3 separate regions of the Homo sapiens genome follow, and all the other regions are linked to region 1. The links come from fine-mapping of genetic effects on gene expression. A gene starts in region 1. Each other region holds a variant in brackets. All regions are shown on one strand. Distances are between the middles of the regions.

Region 1 (7,524 bases):
TGCTCCCCCAGTACTAGGTCTAGACTTGATTTCAACTGAGAGCTTACCTGGTGCTTGAAGATACAGTGCGGCCAAATCATACACACGTTTAACCTACATGACTCCGAATCCTCACAAGGGAAAAAATAAGACTAATTACTTAGGTGGCTCCTGCACTCAGTACTTGCATCCCATTGGCAAGGGATGCCATCAAGCCTGAAACAGTCAAGAAGGTGGCCAAAACTGAGGGAGGGGAAGGTGAGTGGCTTTAAGAGTGTCATGACCATTAAGAAAAGGCTTATCCAACGTGTGATGATATCAGTATCCAACTTCTCAAGGAAGAAGCTGAGGAATTATATGAGGACACAGAAAAACACAGACTAAAGAGGAGTTAGAGGAAATGATACATCAATTACAAAGATAACCATGAAAAAGAAGAATCGGGAAGTTGGAACCTTCCTAGAATTGCCATTGTTCTAAGCAGCAACATGCTAGATTAATTTCTAAATAAGGTTCCTTGAAGGAATTACATACTGAGCATTACTTTGTACATTTTATATTTATGCATGCATCTTGCTGTATAGTGTTTATAACAAAACCACGTCTACTGCATGCTCACAGGAAACCTAAGAGATTTTCTTAAGAGCATATTTAGACTAGGCTTTACCTTGCTTGCTGACTTATCCCTCAGCCCAAGTACTAAATTATCACATTTAGTACTCAATTGGAGAGACAATAATTTATTCTAAAACTGAAAATAAACACTGCTTTTTGGGGGCAGGATGTTGGTCTCTAGTAAGGCACTTTTTGAAAGACTTCCAGGAATGGTTTGGACTTTTATGGGATTTTTCACTTTTATAACCTCTGCTCAGCAGCTGACTTATATACATTACATTCGGAATTTTAAAAAAATGAAAAAAGATTTAATGGCCACCTTCAAGAAGTTCTAATAAATTCTCTCAACAAATAAGAGTTGTATTTTAGTCTGCCTCATTTGTTCAGCGTTTTTCCCTCTCAGACTGCTGTCACATCTAAAAAAGGCAAGATTTAGCTGTGACACTTGATCGAAAGAACTCTGTACTCCAACCCAGGTGTGTGGGATGGAAGGGTCCCTGCGACAAAACACCCCTCATAATCCAAGTTCTTGTGTTACTCTTGCTCATGTGGCTGCACACCCCTCAGGAATTTGGCTCGCAGTAGGCCTTCCAGACATGCAAAGCCGCCATTATTATTGTGTGACCTTGCACAACCCACTTTCTCTAAGCCCAGTTTCATCTTCAAATCGAACAGGACTGGAGGAGTCTGGCAGTTCCTCAAAATGTCAAACACATAGTTACGACATGATCCAGCAACTCCACCCCTAGGTATAGACCTAAGAGAAATGAAAACATATGTTCATGGAAAAATTTGTATGTGAATGTTCACAACAGTATTATTCATAATAGCATCAAAGTGGAAGCCATCCAAATGTCCATCAATAGTTGACCAGATCAACAAAATGTGGTCTATCCATATAATCAAATACTTAGCCATAGAAAAGGAATGAAGTTCGGATACATTCTTCAACACCTGAAAGCATTATGCTAAAAGAAGTCAGACACAAAAGACCACGAGACAATTAAGATAAAGTTTCCGGAATAGACAAATCCATAGAGACAGATTACCAGTTGCCAGAGACAGGGAAAAGTGGGAAATGGGGGGGCGACTGCTAATAAGACAGGAGGTTTATTTTGGAGGGTGACGAAAATGTTTTAAAATTAGATTGTAGTGATGGTAATGGTTACATAACTCCGCGAATACGAAGACCACTGACTCGTACATTTCAGAAGGGTGACTTTTACAGAATTATATGGTATCTCAATAAAGCTATTTTAAAAAATTCAGAAGTAAAGACATTCCCCAGGCCATGTCCTGCAAGAATGACTTCACAGATACCAGCGTGAAGCTTCTAGAAAAGATAGAAAGAAACCCTCAGGGAAGGTAGAGCTCACTTCCCCAGGGGGAAAAATTCAAGAGGACAAATCAGATGATCTCTAGTTTCATGGAAGAGTCCTCCTGTGCTGAACTCGAAAGGCAAAGCAGAGGAGAAAAGACTGCATTTACCATTCCCCATATCTGCAATGGATATTCAAGAAGGTTCTTTAGTGTCGCGGCAGAACAGCATGCTGTAAGAGGTGGGATGTGAGTAAAATAAGAAGAGGAAACTGTCATAGGTAGGTACCAGATGCCAGAGGCACTCACTGCATGTGCTGCACATGTGGGTACTATAGTCATCCCTTGGTATCCACAGAAGGACTGGTTCCAGGACTCACCCCCTACCAAAATCCGCAGCTCAAGTCCCTTAAATAAAATGTAGTATTTGCATGTAACTTATGCCCATCCTCCCATCTACTTTAAGTCTTCTCTAGATTACTTAGAATACCTAATACAATGTAAATACTAAATAATTGTTATATATATATATTTTTAAATTTCTTTTTCCAAATATTTTTGATGCAACATTGGTTGAATCCACAGATTCGGAACCTGATAGCGAGAGCTGACTGTACTATCCTCATTCCACAGATATGAAAGAAGAGCGGTGCCTGAGGTGCACAAAAACATATAGGAAAGACTGGGTCAGTTGTCAAGAGGTTTGGGATGCAAAGGTTGGTTTGGAATTGGAGTCACTGCAGGTTATTTAGAATGATGATTGAAAAATGCAGATTAAGAAAATTAAACCTGGGAGTGGTACATCACACAGTGGCCCTCAAGCTTACCTACCCTTAACTCCTCATGCCCAGGCCTCACCTGCAATCAATTACATCAGAATTTCCTGGGTGGACCCAGCTGATTTTAACATATAGCTAACCACTGGTAACAGCAAGGTCTATTCAAATTCACTTAATCCCAGTAGCCCCCGGAGGTAAAGACTATTTTTATTTCCATTGTACAGATGTGGAAAGTGACTCGGAGGGGCCGGGCGCACCCCTGAGAAATCTTTACTTCTTATTTCCCCAACCTGCGCAACCTGACTCCAGAGCTGCATATTCTTACTTTCTATTAAAAGCAGAGTCTGTTTCTTATTCTTCCCTCGAGCACACAGGCTAACACCTCTTAGGTGATGGTAAATGTCTATTAGAAAAACAAAAAAGGGAGAGGTGGCTCCATTTAATTTTCCAACCTTCCTGGACTAGGTGCCAAACAAACCTGGTTAAAAAACCTCCTACCCAGCAAATCTCACCTTCTCCCAACCAAAACACGCTTCAAGCTCCATCTGCGCACCTCCTGGGCTTAGGGAGGCAAGGATGAAAGGCACAAGGTAAACAATCCTGCCTCTGGGGAGCTTTCAAGTTAGAACCTGAGAATAAGCCATATAAACAGATGACCAGCCTTTGAAAGTTGTTGTCAGGATTAAATGCATAATTTTGCAGAAGGCGTTTCGTTCGGGGCCTACCACGTGGAAAGCGCTCACCAGACGACAGCTGCAAATAAAATAAACTGCGCACCCCAACAGCGTTAGGGGCCCCGCCAATTCCTAACTCCCTGTCTTACCCCTTTGCTTCTTTCCTTGACTACCCCCACACCCGACCGAACTCCACCAGAGGCTGCGGCTCCTCTCGGGCATTGTCAGCTGCACCTTGCGCCCCAGCCCCACCAGCCCTGAACAAGGCGCCGGCGTTTCCAAGAACCAAGGGCTGCAGGCGCACGAGGAAAGCGCGGAGGAGTCAGTGACCGGGCGCACTCGGAAGCCTGGCTCCCCGTCCCGGCACTGTCTCGGCCGGCTGTGCGACCCCAGCACAGTACCTAGGCCCTTTCCTCTCTCGCCCTGGAGGACTTTCGGAAGAGCGAGATTTCCTTTCGCTGCAAAACACCAAACTCGGAAAGGGCCGCGCTTTCCTCGCCCAGGGCCCTTACCTTTCTTGGCCCCACGCGCTCGCCGTTACCCCGGCAACGCCGGCCGTGGGGCGGACACCGCTGCCGTCAAGCAGTGCGGCCGCAAAGCCAGCCGAGTGCGCAGCCGCAGAGCTCCCGTCGGGACTTGGCGGAGTGCGCCTGCGCACGGCCGGCTGGCGGGTGTTCTGTGCGCCAGCTCTGCCACTGCGGAGTATGAGGCGGAGGCTGCGTGCGCGCTTTGCTGCTCTCTGCAGGATTGTACGGAAGCCAGAACGATCCTGCAAGACGCATTTTACAGATGAGATGCAGTTACCCGTCAAATGTCACATAGTCACGTGGGAGGTGGGAGAGACCTAGAATCTTCGGCCCTCGGTGGATGGGATGTTTGAGGCGACCGACAGGACTTTATTAAATGGCCCTGAGGAAACTGATCTCATCTTTCTCAATGTAGAAAGAGGATCACAGCAGCGCACCTGTGTACGCTGCAGCATGCGGGGAACTTGCAAGGACGTTTTCTCTGGCAGACACCTGGCCAGAAGCCTCTGTGTGCCCAGACTGCCTGTGCAGTTAAGGGACAATAGGCGGCAGGTCCACCTGCTCTGCATCCCCATTTTCCCCCCTCACTGGCTGCGTGAGCTTGAATGACTGACAACCTTTCTGAGCTTGAGTTTACTGAAAAATGGGCCATCAGAATTACGGGAGATGAGCAAAACTGGAGTGCAATAGGAAGTGTAAGTTTCTCCTGACCTGGTTATTTTAAAGGAGCCCTGTGGGGAGTCCAATATATACTTTCCCAAATATGAATCACAGGAGTTCCACCACACAGACTAAGCAGGAGGCAAAGGAGGATGGCAAGGAAGTGTGGCAAATACTGCTGGAGAGATTCATGGTGCTAGATGTGATGATGGATGTTGAATTTTGGACTTCTGCCAATGTTCTTGCCTCCATTCCTTCACGCATGCTGTTGCCTCTATGTTCCCTCCCCTCTGTTAGCTGCAGTAATTCCTGGTCAGCCTTTAGGTCTCAGCTCAAATATCACCTCTTCCAGGAGACTTCTTGCCTTCCCAGACCTGCTTGGGTGACTTGCCTCTGTGCTCTGCAGTAGTCTGGCATGGCATGTGTTGTCCCTGTTTTTCTGGCCCTTTTTATTTTTTGAGACGGAGCCTGGCTCTGTCGCCCAGGCTGGAATGCAGTGGCACCATCTCAGCTCACTTACCTCACTGCAATCTCTGCCTCCCAGGTTCAGGTGATTCTCCTGCCTCAGCCTCCCGAGTAGCTCGGATTACAGGCGCCTGCCACCACGCCCGGCTGATTGTTATATTTTTAGTAGAAACGGGGTTTCACCACGTTGGCCAGGCTGGTCTCAAACTCCTGACCTCAAGCGATCCTCCCGCCTCGGCCTCCCAAAGTGCTGGGATTACAGGCTTGAGCCACTGCATCCTGCCTGGCCCTTTTTGAACTGCACTGTGGGCTTGCTCTTGGTAGAGTGAGATCATGTCGCAGCATTCAGTGGGTCCTCTGCTGCAAGGACCTTCACTGCTAGGCTAGGGAGTTCAGGTTTTAGATAAACCAAAATCAAAGAGCTTTGTGGTAAGAATGTTGCAAAAGAAAGGGAGAAAATTGGCAAGAGTCACAGGATATGGTAACAGGATGGATTGGGCAGGGGAGAGACAGCTGAAGAGAGGCTGTAATATCCGACCAGAACATGCCAATTTAAGAAATACTGGTTTTAGAATTAGAGGGCTTTAACAATGAAAGGGATTCAGAGGTTGTCCAGTTAAACTTCCTTATTTAACTGATAAGAAAACAGTTCCAGTGGCACTGTGAGTTGTCAGAGATAACCGAGCAGGTCTGAGGTGGGGCTGAGACTAGAGCCAGGTCTCTTAAATCCCATCCCAGCTCGTGGAAGGATTTGGGGTTTGCTGATAATGGGATCTCAAATTCCCCTCCCAAAAACATAAAAAAAGAAATTAAAAAAAGAAAAAAAATCTGTAAATTTTAAAAAAGAAAGAAATTTTCCCCAAGACTTTCTCAAGTGCATTTTAAACCCTTTGATATGGTTATTTTCAAACATACAACACAAAAGTAGAGAAAACAGTCCAATAAATCATCACTTCTGGCCGGGCACGGTGGCTCATGCCTGTAATCCCAGCACTTTGGGAGGCTGAGGCGGGTGGATCACCTGAGGTTGGGAGTTCGAGACCAGCCTGACCAACATGGAGAAACCCCATCTCTACTAAAAATACAAAATTAGCTGGACATGGTGGTGCATGCCTATAATCCCAGCTACCCTGGAGGCTGAGGCAAGAGAATTGCTTGAACCGGGGAGGTGGAGGTTGTGGTGAGTCGGGATTGCACCATTGCCCTCCAGCCTAGGCAACAAGAGTAAAAACTCTGTCTCAAAAATAAAAAATCGCTTCTACAACCTTCAACCTTTGGTATCTCATTTCTTTTGCATTCTCGATATACACACTTTTATCTCCTTGCTGGAGTATTTTAAAACAATCCCAGACATGATATAACTTCATCCATGATATTTCAGTAGGTATCTCTAATAGATAAGGACTTAATTTTATTACAATACATCTGCATCTACATATATATATATATATATACGCAGACACACACACACACACACACATATATCAACTGTGTAGTTCATTCTCATTATTTGAGGTAATTCTGTTCTATAAAGTTGCCACAAACACTGAATTAGTAAATACTGAACCATGTTTCCAGGAGAAATACAAGATACAAGGTTAGGTGTCTGTGAGTCTCTGGTCACAGCATTTTCATCAACTGGTCAATATATAACCTCACTTCATGTGTTTCTGTTTAAAGACACCTTACATATGTTGATTCATCAACACTGAACTCGCAGCCAACAGCACTATAACTCCTGCCTAAAGGAGGCTTATCTAACACACCTATTCTCTCCAATAAGGCACATTTCTTGGGTGGGGAACACCAGACAGCACTTCAGCACTCCACTTGGGGCCATTTTAAACAGTTAAATCACCAACAAAAAGCACAAAAATGTGAAAAACATGGCACAAACTAGAGCTCAAAAAAGCATACTTATTTATGGTATGAGAGCTGAAACAAGAAGGCAGAGTCTCCTTGTTCACCTGCAGCTGGGAATGTGCACACTGTGTGACTCAAATTTTTTGGTATTCTGTGCATGCACACATCTGCAGATGACTGTGACAGTGAAGTATTGATTGTGATGTTACCAATAAGTTTTAGCAACTAGGTGAGTTTGTAAATACAGAATCCAAGAGTAGGGAGGATGGACTATATCAACATATCCCCAGTATCACTAGCACATCTAACACAATGAACAGTTATCGGTGAAATGTGCCCAGAACCTCCAAGTAATATTTGGGATATACTTAAGAAAAAAGTTTATCTGAAATTCAAGTTAATCTGGGTGCCTCACATTTTATCTGGCCACCCTAGTGACAATTTATTGGGCACTTACTATGTGCCAGCCACTTTTGCATCCATGATCTTATTTAATTCTCATAACAGGGCTGTGAGATTGGTGTTCTTACCTCTCTTCTGCAGCCAAGGTTACCGCACATGCCCATGGTGTCATTGCTAGGAAGTAGTGAAGGCCAGATGAGGATACGGATCTACGGGGCTTATGCTCTTTTAATCTGTCATGCT
Region 2 (7,524 bases), 55 kb after region 1:
GATAGGTGCTCACCACCACGCCTTTCTAATTTTTGTATTTTTAGTAGAGATAGGGTTTCACCATGTTGGCCAGGCTTGTCTCAAACTCCTGACCTCAAGTGATCCACCCGCCTTGGCCTCCCAAAGTGCTGGGATTACAGGCATGAGCCACTGTGCCCAGCCAGAAATCTCCTTTTCAACTTCTGCTCCTTCCTGATGAATCTACGTTTTATAGCTTCTACTCAGTTTCTTATCATAGCTTCAAATATGCTTTTTTCACAAATATGCTTTTAAAAAAAGGTTTGTCTTTTTGCTTAATTTGCTTATGCTATGTTTGCTTAATATGGCATATTTCCAAAGGACAAAACACAGTTTTAAAATACTGATACATTTTAACAGAGGTTTCTTTTCAGTGGTAAGATTGCAAGCAATTTTCACTAGTTCTTCTTTAGATTTTTCTTTAGTTCAATTTGCAAATGGTGAACTTAAATTACTTTTAAGCAGTTTACTTTTTTCTTTATGTAGATCTTGTTAGATTTATTCTCAAATACTTTATAGCTTCTATTGTGAATGGACCCTTCATTTTCATTACATCTAATATATCCCCACTGATGTGCAGAAAACTAATTGATTTTAGTATATTGAAACAATTCCAATTTTCTGAACTTTTATCAGTTCAAATAGCTTTTAATCATGGATTTCTACTTTTTTTGGATAGATAATTATATCAGCAATGGTAGCTTTATTTATTTCTTCTTTTGCAGCATTAACCTTTCTCATTTCCTCTTCTTGCCATAGTGTGTTGGCTAAAACCTCCAATATGGGATTAAATAATAGTAGCAATAGTAGCAATTCTTGTTTTATTCCTAACTTTGAAGGAAATGCTTCTAATGGTTTATCAGCAACTATGATGTTTGCTATAGATTATGGAGAACATGTTTTACTCCTGGCTTTCCAGGGGTTTTACAATTTTAATTTGTTTTAGTCAGGAATGTTGTTGAATTTTTATCAAATACTTTTACATTTTTCTATCTAAAGAGCTATGATATCTGAAGAGTTATGGTTTTATCTTAACCTAGCACAGTGAATTACATTAATAGAGTTCCTTATACTCTTGTACTCACTTGCTAATATTTTATATAGAGTTTTTGTATTTGTAGGTGATACTGGTTTAGAGTTATTTTGGGGGCCATTCTTTGCCTGTTTTAGTAACAATGTTAACTAGCCTTATACACCAAGTTGAGAGGTTTGCCTTCTGTGTCAACGCAGTAATGATCTGTTCCCTGACGGTTTCTTAGAATTTGTTTGCAGAACCATCTGAGCTTGGTGATAAATCTATCACTATCTTTAATTTTTCTTCCATAGCTTTTATCTATTCAGGCTTTCTACTACTTATATGGTAAAGTTTTAGTAATTTATATTGGAATAAAGTTGTAGATGATATTGTCTTAGAATATGAAATGTATTATTTTTATTCACGCTCCTTAACTTAACGCTTTTTTTTTTGTGACAGAGTCTTAATCTGTTGCCCAGTGCAGTGGCATGATCATGGCTCACTGCAGCCTCCAACTCCTGGGTTCAGGTGATCCTCCTGCTTTAGCCTCCCAAGTAGCTGGGACTATAGGCATGAGCCGCCACACCCAACTAATTTCGAAATTTTTTGTAGAGGTGGGGTCTTGCTACGTAGCCCAGGCTGGTCTTAAACTCCTGGCCTCAACCAATCCTCCTGCCTCAGCCTCCCAAAGTGCTGGGAATATAGGCATGAGTCACCATGCCCAGCTCTTAGAGCTCTTTATTTGTGCATTCTCTCATTAAAAAAATCTGATTTGTCAAAGGTTTATCTATTTTTTGCTTTTTTAAAAAAGACATAGCTTTTGGTTTTATTAATCAAGTCTGTTTTTAAAAATTGTGTGTTTTGTTTTTAATTTATTGAATTCCTTTTTAAAACTTTCTTTAGGTTTACTTTCTTCTCTTTTTCTAGTTTTCTTGAGTTGAATGCTTAATTCATTTGATTTGGTATTCTTTGTATTCTAATAAATGCATTGAAGCCTCCACATTTTCTTCTTAGTGCCACTTTGGTTTCATCCCATGGGCTTTGATAAACGGTACTCTCATAGTTCTTTTCTAAACAGCTTGTCTTACAATTTTGATTTCATTTTTAACCTAAGAGTTATATAGAAGCATGTTTTTAAATTTCCAAGTAAAAAGTTTGGGTTTCAGTTTTTGTTTTCTAATCTCTAAGTTTTATTTTCTAATTTCTCAGTTTGTTGCCTTGGGTTAGATTATAAGGTTTTCTCAGTCAGGCTCATCAAGAAGACAGAACATTCACTTGATCATCTATCTCGTATTGATTTCAAATTTGAGCTCCTGAAGGCTATTTATTTTCTTTTAAAAACTGTAACTCTTCTCTCCTTCATGGTATGAGTTTTACCCACCTTTAATGTCCTTCATGACCTGGTCCTGGTCATCCTCTAGTCTCAGTTCTGTTTCATTTTGCTCCATGTTAAGCCATATTAATCTATTTCCATACCAAGTTCCTCAAACACCCTATGTTCTGTCAGGACTCTGCACTTATTCAGATTTTATTCTTCCTGCCTGAAACATTCTCACCTTCCCTTCACTCTTCTTATTGACTTCAACCATTTCTTCAAAATACAGCCTGTGGTGGGATTCCATCCTGAAATCCTTCCTCAACAGTATCCCTTCCTCTCTCCTGTTCATCTCATCTCCTTTCTCTGGGCCCTCATAGCACCCTATAAACACCTCAATCGCTACTATACTAGTAGATTACATTCACTGAATGGTTATTATTTTCCAAAGATCGTGCCAAGGGCCTTATATACGATATGCCATTTAATCTTCACAATAACCCCATGAGGTCATACTTTACAGAGGGAGAAATTAAGACTTAGAGAAAAGAGTTGCATCTTACCAAGATAGACCACTTGCTAGTAAATGCAGAGCTGACATTTGGATCTAAGTCTGTCTGGTTCCAAAGGCTCTGCTCTTATTCCTTATTATCTTGTATTGTAAGTTCTGACTTTCTTGTTTCTCCCCCGTTAGACCGTGAGGTATCAGAGGGCAGAGACTACGTTCTGAACCACCAGTGGAAACACAGGAAGCATTTGGTTGACTGAGTTAATGAGCGAGAAGGCTGTTCTGGCCAAGAGCCCTGGATCAAAAAGCACAATTCTCCTGGCTGGTGAACAGGCCTGAAGGCAGAATCCCTACACAATGAAGAAGTCTGTAAACGATGTTTTCCTGTGTCTAATAAACTCTAGTGACCTTTATCCATTGAGATAAGGCTCAAGAGAACAATGTGAGATGGCAGAGTGGTCTCAGAGTGGGATTTTCAGAACTCTAAATATTCTTCTAAGTTAACTTTCTTACTTTTCTTCCATTAAAGAAGGAAACTGGTCTTCAGTTTGATTTTTTCACTCTCAGGTCTCCAACATATCCCATTGACCAGAGTAAGTATAATTTTCTTTTTAGATTTCAGCATTCAATTTTGGAACCATCAGCAAAAGATCTCAGATTCTGAGAAGGAACAAATGATCTGGTCCTGGCCTGGAGAATTGGGCCCCTGGGAGCATGGGGTCTTCCTCGCAGTTGCTCTATGGGAATGAAAAAGCCACTGATGCTTCATTGAAGGCTGGGCCCCAGACTGGCACCTTGGTTTAATGACTACAGATCCTCCTGCTTGATGAATGTGTGCATCTCAAAGGCCAGAGGCAGACGTGCATCTAAAGACAGGTGCCGAGAGAGGCCCTCCTGGGCTGGGACCACTCAGCCTGGGCTAGGCCTCTGCTTACTAGACACTGGCTCCCGGAGCCTTTCTGCAGCTCCTCCTTCCTCCACCTGCTTCTT[T/C]TTTTTTTTTTTTTTTTTTGGTAGAGACAGAATCTCTACATTTTCCAGGCTGCTCTTGAATGCTGGGCTCAAGAGATTTGCCCTCCTCAGCCCCTCAAAGTGCTGGGATGACAAGCGGGAGCCACCGCTCCCAGCCTCCTCCTTCCTCTTGAGCAGCACCACTGGGGTCAGCCCTTGGGCTGAGGAGATGATGTTAATCTACTAGGTCCCGTTTATCATACAAACAAGGACTAACATGCAACTGATCAGGGCTTGCTGGAAACACTTGGCTCCGGTGCAGTGTCATGGAACTGGCCTCTCTAGGAGTGGAGAGGGATCTGGTTTGGATTTTCAAACCCCTCTTTGGCAAGTTATTCTTTATGATGTGATGGATGAAGCTTGGCTGAAGGGCTGAAATTTTGTGGCCACGGAGTAAGTATATTTTCTGCAATGACAAGTTAGATCATTTACAGATCAGTCCCATTGTCCCCCTGACTGAGCCTCCGTTAAGGCAAGATGGTTTAGGGAAGGAGGGCAGCAGAGAAAAGTTGCATATTCTACATCTAAAGCTTTCACTCACCAGCTCTGTGACCTTGGGCAAACTGATTAAGATCAATGGGCTCAATTTTCTTGTCTAAACAAAACAGACCGGACTAAATAGATAATCTCAAAGATTCTAATTCAAAAATTGTAAGATGTATTCTCATTTGTAATTCCCTCTACATAATTCAACTGGGGAAATATACTCAAACATCTAATTGAAAAAGCATATTAACATTAAACTTAGAACACCTGACTTACTTAAAAACAAGAACGCTTCCTTTGGTCTTTAAGCTCTAGTCAAGGGCAAAATGGATCTGCCAGGGTTGTTCCCTACCCTCCACCCTCCAACTGGTCACCAGCTCCCCACTAGTCTCTTTCCCCTTTCTGCTCCACGCACACTCAGTCCTTTACTGAGCTAAGCCAGGTGCCACAGTTGTGCCACAGAAATCCATCCAAATACCCAGACAGTGCCAGGGCCTTTCTCTTCTCTCTCCATTCCCAACAGCCTAGTGCCTGAAAAGGCACTGTTGCCAGGAGGCCCACCTGAGATCCTCTCCCTGCACCTTGCTGAGGTTACAGTTGAGTCTGGAGTAGGGCCAGGGCCAAGGGTCCTCTCTGCTGGGGTAGGCTGCTTAGAAGGCCCTTTTGGGAAGTGTGTGTGACTCAGACTCCAGGACTTAGCACTCGAGGAGGCTGGAGTCAATTACTAGTTCCCTACTCCCCAGGCTGTGAAGAATTGGGAAAGAAACCTTTCCGGTCTCCATCCACACGGTCCTGGAATTGATTACAGAGCACTGTGGATTATGGGCAAATCTACAAAGCTTCCATCTCGTCCAGATCTGGTACTGTTAAGTGGAGGGTTTATCTGAAGCAGATTCAAACGTTCTGGTCCTCTTGAGATCTGCCCACCTGGGCTGGGTGTTTCCCTAGCACAGATTTTCTCAGGAGGTGTCTCAATTAGGGAACCAGATGACCACAGTGGAGTCTCCTGAAGAAGAGGCAGAAAAAATGCAGGTGGTTTTGTCTCTATTCTAGGAGCTGCTCTCCTGGCTTTCTGCATCTTTCCCTATTGGCTCTCTGATAGAGACTAATCTGAAACCGACTGTCCCTAGGGCGTTCAAAACCAAAACAAACAAACAAACAAAACAAATGTGATTGCAGGGCAGCTGTAAATTGATCCACAGACAATGAAAGACCTTAGTTCAGGTGTGGGCTGAAAACTGGAGGGGAGGCAGGGCTACTTAGGGAACCCAGTACTTTGCAATTTAAGTTCCTTTTGCGCTTCCTCTCAAGTTTCCTTTATTGCACTGCTCCCTCAGTTCACAGGCATGTTCTAGGAGGCAGTGGATTGGGAAACTGAAGACTTGAGTCCTGTTTCTCTTCCACTTAGTTTCTGTGTGCCTGTGGACAAATCATCTAATCTTTCTGGGTTTAGGCTTAGTTTTCAAGACAATGACATTTCTTTCATAAGCGTATGGTGAGAATGAAATAGGTAGAGGAACTTTAGAACATATTATAATTCTTGTGTTTGTTCGAATAAAGGCAGTTTCCATGGGGTTGGGGTCAGGAGTGTAAGTAGGAGTGGGTGGCATATCAACAGTTATGAAATTGAAGGTTTTTGAGTTGTTCTTGGTTAGAGCAGAAATTCAGGAGCTCAAGAAAAATAATGCCTGATGCAGACACGTTTGGGGTTTCAGGCAAGTTCTCGTTCCTGTAGTTGAGTGCACATAGGCAAGGTGGTTTAAGAACAATAACAAAACAAAAAACCCACGGTGCCCCAATTCACTACTTCCTTGAAGAAATGATGCTGGGAATTTGAGGGTACTTTTCTGATCCAATTCAGCAAAGTATCATGGTGTGGCCTATAGCAATTCCTTCCCACCATCCTACCGATAGGAAAAAATTATTCAGCAAAGTTATACATGTGTCCTCTTAATATTTAAATTTGAATCGGAGCTTGGTCTAGTGCAGGGATTATCAATTTTGGCTACATATTAAAATTATCTGGGGAGACTAAAAAAGCAAACGAATGCCTGGGACCCATCCCTAGAGATTCTGATTCACTTGCCTGGGGTATGACCTTCAGGATTTTTAATAGCTCTTGGGTGATTCTAATGTGTGGCCAAGGGTGCACACTGCCAGCTGAGTGAGACGCAGTTGGAATTACAACTTTGCAAGCTAGGTAACCTTGGGCAAGTTCCTTAACCTTTCTATACTTCAGTTTCCTCACTTTAACAATTGGAGCTGTAGCGGTAATTTAACTCATAGTGTTGGTCAGAGGACTGAGGGACATACGGAAAGTGCTTAGCACAGTGTCTGTTGTACAGTAAATTAGCTATTACTATTTTCATTACTGCTCTGTAAACTTGCCTCATTTTCTTCTTACCTTTCTTTTCCTCTCATTTCTCTGATTTTCTTGGGTCCTTTCTACATTTTTCCTATTCTTTCTTCCTCAATTATTGCTCCCTTCAGCCTTTTTCTTTTCCCTTCAGCCTTCCCCCTCCCTGCCCCCCGCTGCTTTCCGGATGTTTTCCCCTTTCCACTCCTGGGCCTGCATCTTGCTGGGGATTTATAAGAACGCTAGCAGGGCCAGCTTAAATTAATCAGAGGTCTGAGCCATGGATGATTTGAGGAGCAATGTCGTTTACTGCTGCTGCTTTCAGGGAAAGGGGATGACATAAAATAGAGATCTTGCAAATGCTTTGACAAACAGATAAAGATCATCTGTAACCAGCACATTCTGCAGTGAACACACATGTTGCTGGTAGAGCCTTCGCTCTGAAGTGGGTTAACATTCTGACACTTGCCGGTTTAAATAACAGTTTCACATTTAATTGCTTCCCCTATCTATGCCTGATAACAATAATATATATGACTGGGCCAGGATGGTGGAGCGGGATAACCATAATAAAAATCAAACCAGCCAATGTTTTCTTTGATCTGCCCATTAAATAGCGATTACATCTCAACTTGCCTCATCTCAACACTCCACTCCCACCTCCAATATGCAACTCCCAAACCACAAAACAGTGCAAGCCCATCTGGTGACAGGGTGGGCAACCCTTTCCTGTGTGCCATGTTCAAAGCCCCTCCACTCAACAGCACCACCAGTGGAAACTGAGCATGGGCTCTGTCATTTCTGGGTCTCTCAGAGTG
Region 3 (7,506 bases), 52 kb before region 1:
AGCAACTGGACAAGGGTGAATTTACGGAGAAGTACGTGGTCCCGCGGACAAGGCTGGCATCCAAGTTCATCACACTCTACCGGGCGATACGGGAGCATGGCTTCTACGTCACTGACTGTCCCCAGCAGCAGGCACAACCCCCTGAGGGCGGCGGTTTGTGCTGAGAGCTATGTAAGCGCAGCCTGGACGCTGGAGGGTAGGGTGGTTGCTACCTTTAATCAGTACTATGGATTTCTAAATGCATTTAACTGTGGTTAATAAAAGCGTGTATGGGCCGGGCATGGTGGCTCACACCTGTAATCCCAGCACTTTGGGAAGCTAAGACAGGTAGGTCACCTGAGGTTGGGAGTTTGAGACCAGCCTGACCAACATGGAGAAACCCCGTCCTTACTAAAAATATAAAATTAGCTGGGCATGGTGGCGCATGCCTGTAATCCCAACTACTAGGGAGGCTGAAGCAGGAGAATCGCTTGAACCCGGGAGGCGGAGGTTGGGATGAGTTGAGATCGTGCCATTGCACTCCAGCCTGGGCAACAAGAGTGAAACTCCATCTCAAAAAAATAAAAAATAAAAAATAAAAACGTGTATGGCTTTCCTTCAAGCATATGTCAGCTTACTACATCATAAGACTTCATAAAATAAAAATTGCCCTAGGTTTTAAAAATTATATGCATTCCAACAAAATTATTTTCATATCAATGAGGTTTTTAAACTAAGAATCCATTTACAGCATAAAGTGGTAGCACATTTTATTCACAGAGCAATGAAAATTATTCCTATAAATTAATGTGAGCTGAACAAATTCACCTTCCAATGTGCATACAGAAAGTGGGGATGTGAAGACAGCAAGGTGGGTGAGACACAAGTTATGAAGTAATGAGTACCTTCTCCTCGTGGTTTTTACTTTAAAAGCACATGCTAAGAGCTGGATGCAGTGGCTCACGCCTGTACTCTCAGCACTTTGGGAGGCCAAGGCGGGCAGATCACTTGAGGTCAGGAGTTCCAGACCAGCCTGGCCAACATAGTGAAACCCCGTCTCTACTAAAAATACAAAAATTAGCCGTGTGTGGTGGTGCGTGCCTGTAATCCCAGCTACTCAGGAGGCTGAGGCATGAGAATCGCTTAAACCCAGCAGGCAGAGGTTGCAGTGATCCAAGATCGCAGCATTGGACTCCAGCCTGGACGACAGAGCGAGACTACATCACAAGAAAAAAAAAAAGAAAAAAGCACATGGTAAGCTCATGATAGTGAACAACAGTAAAAAAAACCAAAAACCCCCTCAGAATCTAAATCAGGAAATGGTCACTCCTTTTAAAGGAGCTCTTCTGAGTCTATTTGCACAAACGAGCCCAGCAATGACTGAAATCAGTAAAATTCCAGCCTGTGTCAATTTCATTTTGCCTGACCCGACACATGGAGGCTCAGGGGTTGGGTTTGCTGCTACAAAGCACTTCCTCTGCCCACTGAAAAGGCAGAGTTCAGAAAGCACATGAAGAGAGGGCTATCTTCTTTCTCTGACACCTTCACAGGAGGCTGGGGAAACTGGGATGAGAAACTGTAAAGAAATGAGGTAATTTTTAACAAGTATGTTGGAGTTTGTGCACTGAAACAATCATCGAACTTCAAAAGGCCAACATGCAAAACATTCCCAAATTCCTCTTTGGAAACTTCTTCCAGAACTTGGTTGTTTTTGACCAAATGTGATGTACTACTTCACTTAATCTTATTCCCCAGCCTTGGTACTAACTGATGTCTAATTTCCAAAAATGAAACCCATCTTAAAGGTACCAATAACCGCCTCGTGTTAAAATAACTTAGGGGGAAGCCATTACACCGAGATGGATCCAACACCCAGTTCCAAATTAAACTAAATGAAACTTCAGATCAGCCAATCCTAAATGGCCAACTGAG[C/A]GTTAGTTACACAATCAGATACTTGCCACTGGGATAACCTAAATAAGACAACTGCTCAAACTTTAACCAACCAACTTCTCTCCTGTGCCTCCTCACACACCCTCTAAAAGCCTCCCTTCACACCCTCTTTCGGGAGCCCGAACCACTTCAGTTTTGGTGCGGCTTGATTCACGAATGGCTGTTTGCTCAAATAAACTTTAATGTGTTTTATCCTTTAACATTAGTAATAAAGATATTCAGAAAACTTGCTACAGATCCTTAAAGCTTGTTTCCAAATAGGCATTTAGTCCATGTTTCAGCACAGTTAACGTCAATGGGAAAGAATGCATGGCATAGCGACATTTGCATTTACAAGCTCAGGTACTTTCCTTCAAACACAAAACTGCCCACCCAGAATTTGATACCATTTTAAGCAGAACTATGACTAGTATTCCATGGTGTTCAAGAAATCAACAAAACCCCAGAGGGTAAAGATGAAAGAATTCCAATTTGCCCCCATTTCTTCACATTTTATACTAGGATTCAGCTTCTCTAGTCTAATTCTTTACTCATTATTAGTAGTAACGGCAGCTGCATTTAATGAGTATTCATAAAGGACTCCCCACCAGAAGAAACACTTATTCTTCCTTGTCAATCCTCAAGACCATCCTCTGAGGTGGGTCTTAACATTATGCTTCTTTTATAGATGAAAAGGGAAATTGAGGAAATGTCCAAAGTCATACAGTGGCAAAACTGGGGTTCAAACCAGGGTTTGACCATGAAAGCTGTGCCCTTAACCCCTGGGCCACACTGCAGTGGTCAAGAGGACAACCCCAGCAAATCGAAAGGGACCAACTGTACCTAGTATGTGCAGAAACTGGGTCAATACTTTGCCATCATTAGAGAAGAAAAAGGAGAAAATGAGGATTTGCTTTTATCAACATTCAAACATGGAAAGGAGGTAAACAATAAAAGTCAGCTAAAATAAATAATATAAGAAATGCCTATTTCATGCTAATTTCCCTTAGGGGCTGCAGCTCTTTTCTTTTTCATTTATTTATTTTCTTGGAGACAGGGTCTTCCTCTGTTGCCCAGGCTGGATTCCGGAGGCACAATCACGGCTCACTGCAGCCTCAACCTCCTGGGCTCAGGCAATTCTCCCACCTCAGCCTTCCCAGTGGCTGGGACTACAGATGCATGCTACCACACCCAGCTAATTTTTTAAAATTATTTGTAAAGACGGGGTCTCACTATGTTGCCCAGGCTGGTCTCAAGTGATCCTCCCACTTAAGCCTCCCAAAGTGCTGGGATTCTCACCCCTTAATTTTCAAGGAAAGCTTTAGATGGTCCCCATTTCTTATTTTAGGGGGTGCTCTCCAACCTGGAGGTGACATTGGCAAGAGCTGGCCTCATATTTCTTCTCTCTCACTTCAGCAGGCTACGAATTCCTTTTTTTTTTTTTGAGACGGAGTTTTGCTCTTGTTGCCCAGGCTGGAGTGCAGTGACGTGCTCTCAGCTCACTGCAACCTCCCACCTCCCGGGTTCAAGTGATTCTCCTGCTTCAGCTTCCTGAGTAGCTGGGATTACAGGTGCCTGCCACCACGTCCGGCTAATTTTTTGTATTTTTAGTAGAGACGGGGTTTCACCATGTTGGCCACTCTAGTTTTTGAACTCCTGGCCTCAAGCAATCCACCCGTCTCGGCCTCCCAAAGTGCTAGGATTATAGGCATGAGCCACCGCGCCTGGCCCCCTCCTCTTATAAATAAGACCACATACCAATCTATAGGTTTTGCCCCTAATAAAGGAAATCAGCCATTGATTTACACCAACAGATGGCAATGTTGCTCAGTCTGTAGAATTATGAACTGAGACTCCTTAGATTAAGTTTCCTTTATCGTACCAGCTAAATGCTAACTGAAGCACTGGCAGCAACTCTGTTCCCCAGATGAAATCCCAAGTTTCTTCCCAGCACCTCCTGAGATGTGCTTCTTTATTCCATTGTTCAGCACTCCCCGGAGCACACATCTGGGACTCAATCAATGTTCATGGGATGACCACCAGGATCCTTTTCACAGCAAGTGCCACAGTGTTTCCTATCTGAAACACTAAAATGATCTATACAAAGGTAATCTTCCAAAGCCTCTACAGCATGCATGAATTACTCCTAGAACCAGGAAAACCTACCATTACTAAAAAACAAAACAAAACAAAACCCCACAATGGCTGCATCTAGCTCCCTGTGTATAGCAGGTGCTTACTACAGTATTGCCTCTCCTCCCAATCTCCTCTGCTGTCTTCACTACTTTACCTCCAGCTATTTTTCTACCACCTTCTTCTCCTCCACTGACTCACCTACCAGGGCATAAAATAGGCTTTGCACTTCCTAGAGAAAATAAGGATGGCAATGCTTACACTTTGTCTGAAAGGGGAAAAGTACACCTACTGTGTGCCAGACGCTTTTGTATGTCATCTCATTTCATTCAGTCTGCAAAGCAACTGAGGAGGTGGTAATTATTCTTATTTTACTGTTGAGGAAACCAAGGCTCGGAGTGATCAAGCAACGTTTCCAACGTCGCCCCTGTTTTCCCAGTGGTGATTTGAAATGTGGACCCGAGTTTTCTGATTCTACTTTACCAGAATGTGCCATTTAAAAGTTAGGAAAATCCCAGCACTTTGGGAGGCCGAGGCAGGCAGATTATCTAAGGTCAGGAGTTCGAGACCAGTCTGGCCAACATGGTGAAACCCTGTCTCTACTAAAAATACAAAAATTAGCCAGGCATGGTGGCGGGCACTTGTAATCCCAGCTACTTGGGAGGCTGAGACAGGAGAATCGCTTGAACTCAGGAAGTGGAGGTTGCAGTGAGCCAAGATCTCACCACTGCACTCCAGCCTGGGCAACAAGAGCAAAACTCCATCTCACACACACACAACGTTAGAAAGAACATTTGCCTTTGAAATACTGTTTATGAAAATATAAAGACTCTAAAAATTTTAAATGACAGAAACCTTTCACTTAAGAGATCATACTTGCAATAAAAATATTGCCTCCTAGTTTAACCATTTTACAAATATGACTTTTACATCATGTAAAAGGCATCCCTATATTTCACAAAATTAGATAGACTCAAATTTTCCAGTTTTAAGATCAACTTTAGAAATGGGCCTCGGTTATAGTGTTAGGGGAGTTAACATTCATGGGATGATTATTCAAGTCTGTAATGAGATTTTAAAAATTCAATTCAGTTAGTAAAATCATACATGGGAGGTGGGTGGTGGGGAGGAGAGAAAATTTGTTTCTTTTTAATCCAAGTAATTCTCCACAAGGGTGAAAATAAGAACCACATTCAAGTAAATAGAATTTTTTTTTCTTAAAAAAAGAGAAAGCAAATACGTTGTAACAATAAAGGTAAAATGATTAAGACAAATTTTTTTAAATTATCAATTTAAAGTTGTCAATAAGTAACAATGAAACTTCAGGTTTTTTTTGTTTTTGTTTTTTAATGGAGTCTCACTCTGCCCCCAGGCTGGAGTGCAGTGGCTTGATCTCGGCTCTCTGCAACCTCCACCTCCCAGGTTCAAGTGATTCTCCTGCCTCAGCCTAAGAAGCTGGGATTACAGGTGCCACCACCACACCCAGCTAATCTTTTTTTTTTTTTTTTTTTTGAGACAGAGTCTCGCTCTGTCGCCCTGGCTGGAGTGCAGTGGCGCGATCTCGGCTCACTGCAAACTCCACCTCCTGGGTTCATGCCATTCTCCTGCGTCAGCCTCCTGAGTAGCTGGGACTACAGGCCCTGCCACCACGCCTGAGCTAGTTTTTTTGTATTTTTTAGTAGAGACGGGGTTTCACCGTGTTAGCCAGGATGGTCTTGATCTCCTGACCTCGTGATCCACCCACCTCGGCCTCCCAAAGTGCTGGGATTACAGTGTTTTTTGGGCTCTCCTTTACCCACACAACCACACGATTAGGTAAACATCATTAGCCACATGCTAGAAATAAGAAAATTGAGGTTATCAAGGGCAAGTAAACTGCCCAAGGCACACCACCACAGGGAAGCAGAGCTGAGATTTGAAGCATTCCTTTCTAGAAGGTTCATTTCACTACTCAGTTTTCAGAATTCTCTCTGGGGAATTAAAAGCCAAGTACCACACACTGCACCAAGGTTCTTACCCTTGGATCCATAGGTGGTCGTCATGGAATCTTTCTGACACTGTTTGCAAAATCACAGGCATAACCAGTAAGTAAGGGGGCTTCAGGCTGCACCCCACCCGAGGTAGAGGACTGTGTGGGAGCACAAAGCTGGCCCTGCCCGATGTGGTGGGTGGCCTTCCTTGTTAACCACCACCACCACCAAACAGGGCTCTATTTCTGACTGCATGCAATTTTTAGGATAGCGCCATTTCAGCTGAGATAGTGATCTCAGGTCCAGTCCTCCACGTGCATGACTGGTAGTGATGCACACCCGCCAACATCTCTGAGCTTCAAACACCCCTCTGTGGGTCCCTCCTCCTGAATTCACAAGGCTGCTGCAGGGATAAATACACAGGCATCTGCCGCATCTCAACTCCCACTCTCCAAATGTTTGCTATCACGGTTTGCAAAATATTTTACCCCATATTGGCTATCCAAATTAAATATAACAAACATGTAAGGGTTTGCAGCAATATCATTCAAGTAGTGTCTGGACCCATTAAGAGGATACAGCTCAGGCTACCACCTTAGCCTAAGTATTCTACCACCGAAGAGCAAGTATTCCCCCTTCCCATTTCCCCACCACCCACATTTTTTTTTTTTTTTTTTTTTTTTTTTGAGACAGGACCTTGCTCTATTGCTCAGGCTGGATTGCAGTGGCACAATCTCCGCTCACTGCAACCTCTTCCTCCTGGGCTCAAGCGATCCTCCTACCTTAGTCTCCTGAGCAGCTGGAATTACAGGCATGTGCTACAATGCTTGGATAATTTTTGTTAGTAGAGAGGAGGTTTCACCATGTTGCCCAAGCTGGTCTCCAACTCCTGGGCTCAAGCGATCCATGCGCCTTGGCCTCCCAAGGCCTCCCAAGTGCTGGGATTATAGGTATGGGCCACCATGCCCAGCCACCCATCTCCCTCCTCTTGCCACCAGATGCCCTGAGGCAACTTAAGTCTTCATGACTTTCTCACCAATTACAAAAAGGCTTTATTATATTTTGCCAAATGTTAATCGCTTTCATTATGTCTCCAAACATTATTTCACCACTCATTTTTATAACAAGTGCAGTGAAGATATGCTTATCGAATATTGTACAATACTGTTGTGTTCTGTAACACTCTTTCGGGAACAGCTTAGATGTAGGTAACAAGAGATGCCTGCGTATGAAAGTGCTTCATAAACTGTACTGTATAAATGTAAACTACTACCATTTTCAGGTAAAATCAGAGAATAAATGTCTCTTGTTGGAAGTGTCCTCTCAGGACTCCTCTAGTCCAATCTCCCCAGTGAGTGGATGAGGGAAAAGACTGACGCCAGAGGCAGGAGGCTCTGGATTGGAGAGTTAGAGGCCAACGCAAGTATAGAATCTGCAGTCCTAGCACAGGGATCTTTCTCCTCCCTTGTGTAATTTATCTTTAAAAACACTGATA

Direction of the effects. Alleles are on the strand shown, and positions count from the first base shown. SD is a standard deviation of normalised expression in the study named. Not every link is listed here.
For the expression in subcutaneous fat of the gene that starts at base 3,914 in region 1, allele T in region 2 goes with a lower level than allele C (moderate effect, 0.53 SD a copy in FUSION).

What was found. PIP is the estimated chance that this variant, and not a neighbour inherited with it, causes the effect. A credible set is the group of variants that fine-mapping cannot tell apart.
Region 2: its variant is the best candidate, but not a certain one, in a credible set for the expression of TSEN2 in subcutaneous fat (FUSION, PIP 0.75).
Region 3: its variant is the best candidate, but not a certain one, in a credible set for the expression of TSEN2 in sun-exposed skin (GTEx, PIP 0.64).

Annotation. Positions count from the first base shown.
Region 1 is chr3:12,480,870-12,488,393 of GRCh38, reverse strand. TSEN2 (tRNA splicing endonuclease subunit 2) reads right to left here and starts at 3,914. Exons shown (of 12, transcript NM_025265.4): 1 at 3,514-3,914. RefSeq lists an enhancer at 3,571-3,990.
Region 2 is chr3:12,425,894-12,433,417 of GRCh38, reverse strand. The region is part of intron 7 of PPARG (peroxisome proliferator activated receptor gamma); the gene reads right to left. Among named protein-coding and RNA genes, the nearest start is that of TSEN2, 55 kb to the left of the region's middle. The variant T/C (reference allele first, on the strand shown) is at 3,847.
Region 3 is chr3:12,532,851-12,540,356 of GRCh38, reverse strand. MKRN2OS (MKRN2 opposite strand) reads left to right here. Exons shown (of 4, transcript NM_001195279.2): 4 at 1-581. The coding sequence ends at 164. It overlaps TSEN2 (tRNA splicing endonuclease subunit 2), which reads right to left. Exons shown (of 12, transcript NM_025265.4): 12 at 6,699-7,506. Among named protein-coding and RNA genes, the nearest start is that of MKRN2OS, 8.9 kb to the left of the region's middle. The variant C/A (reference allele first, on the strand shown) is at 1,912.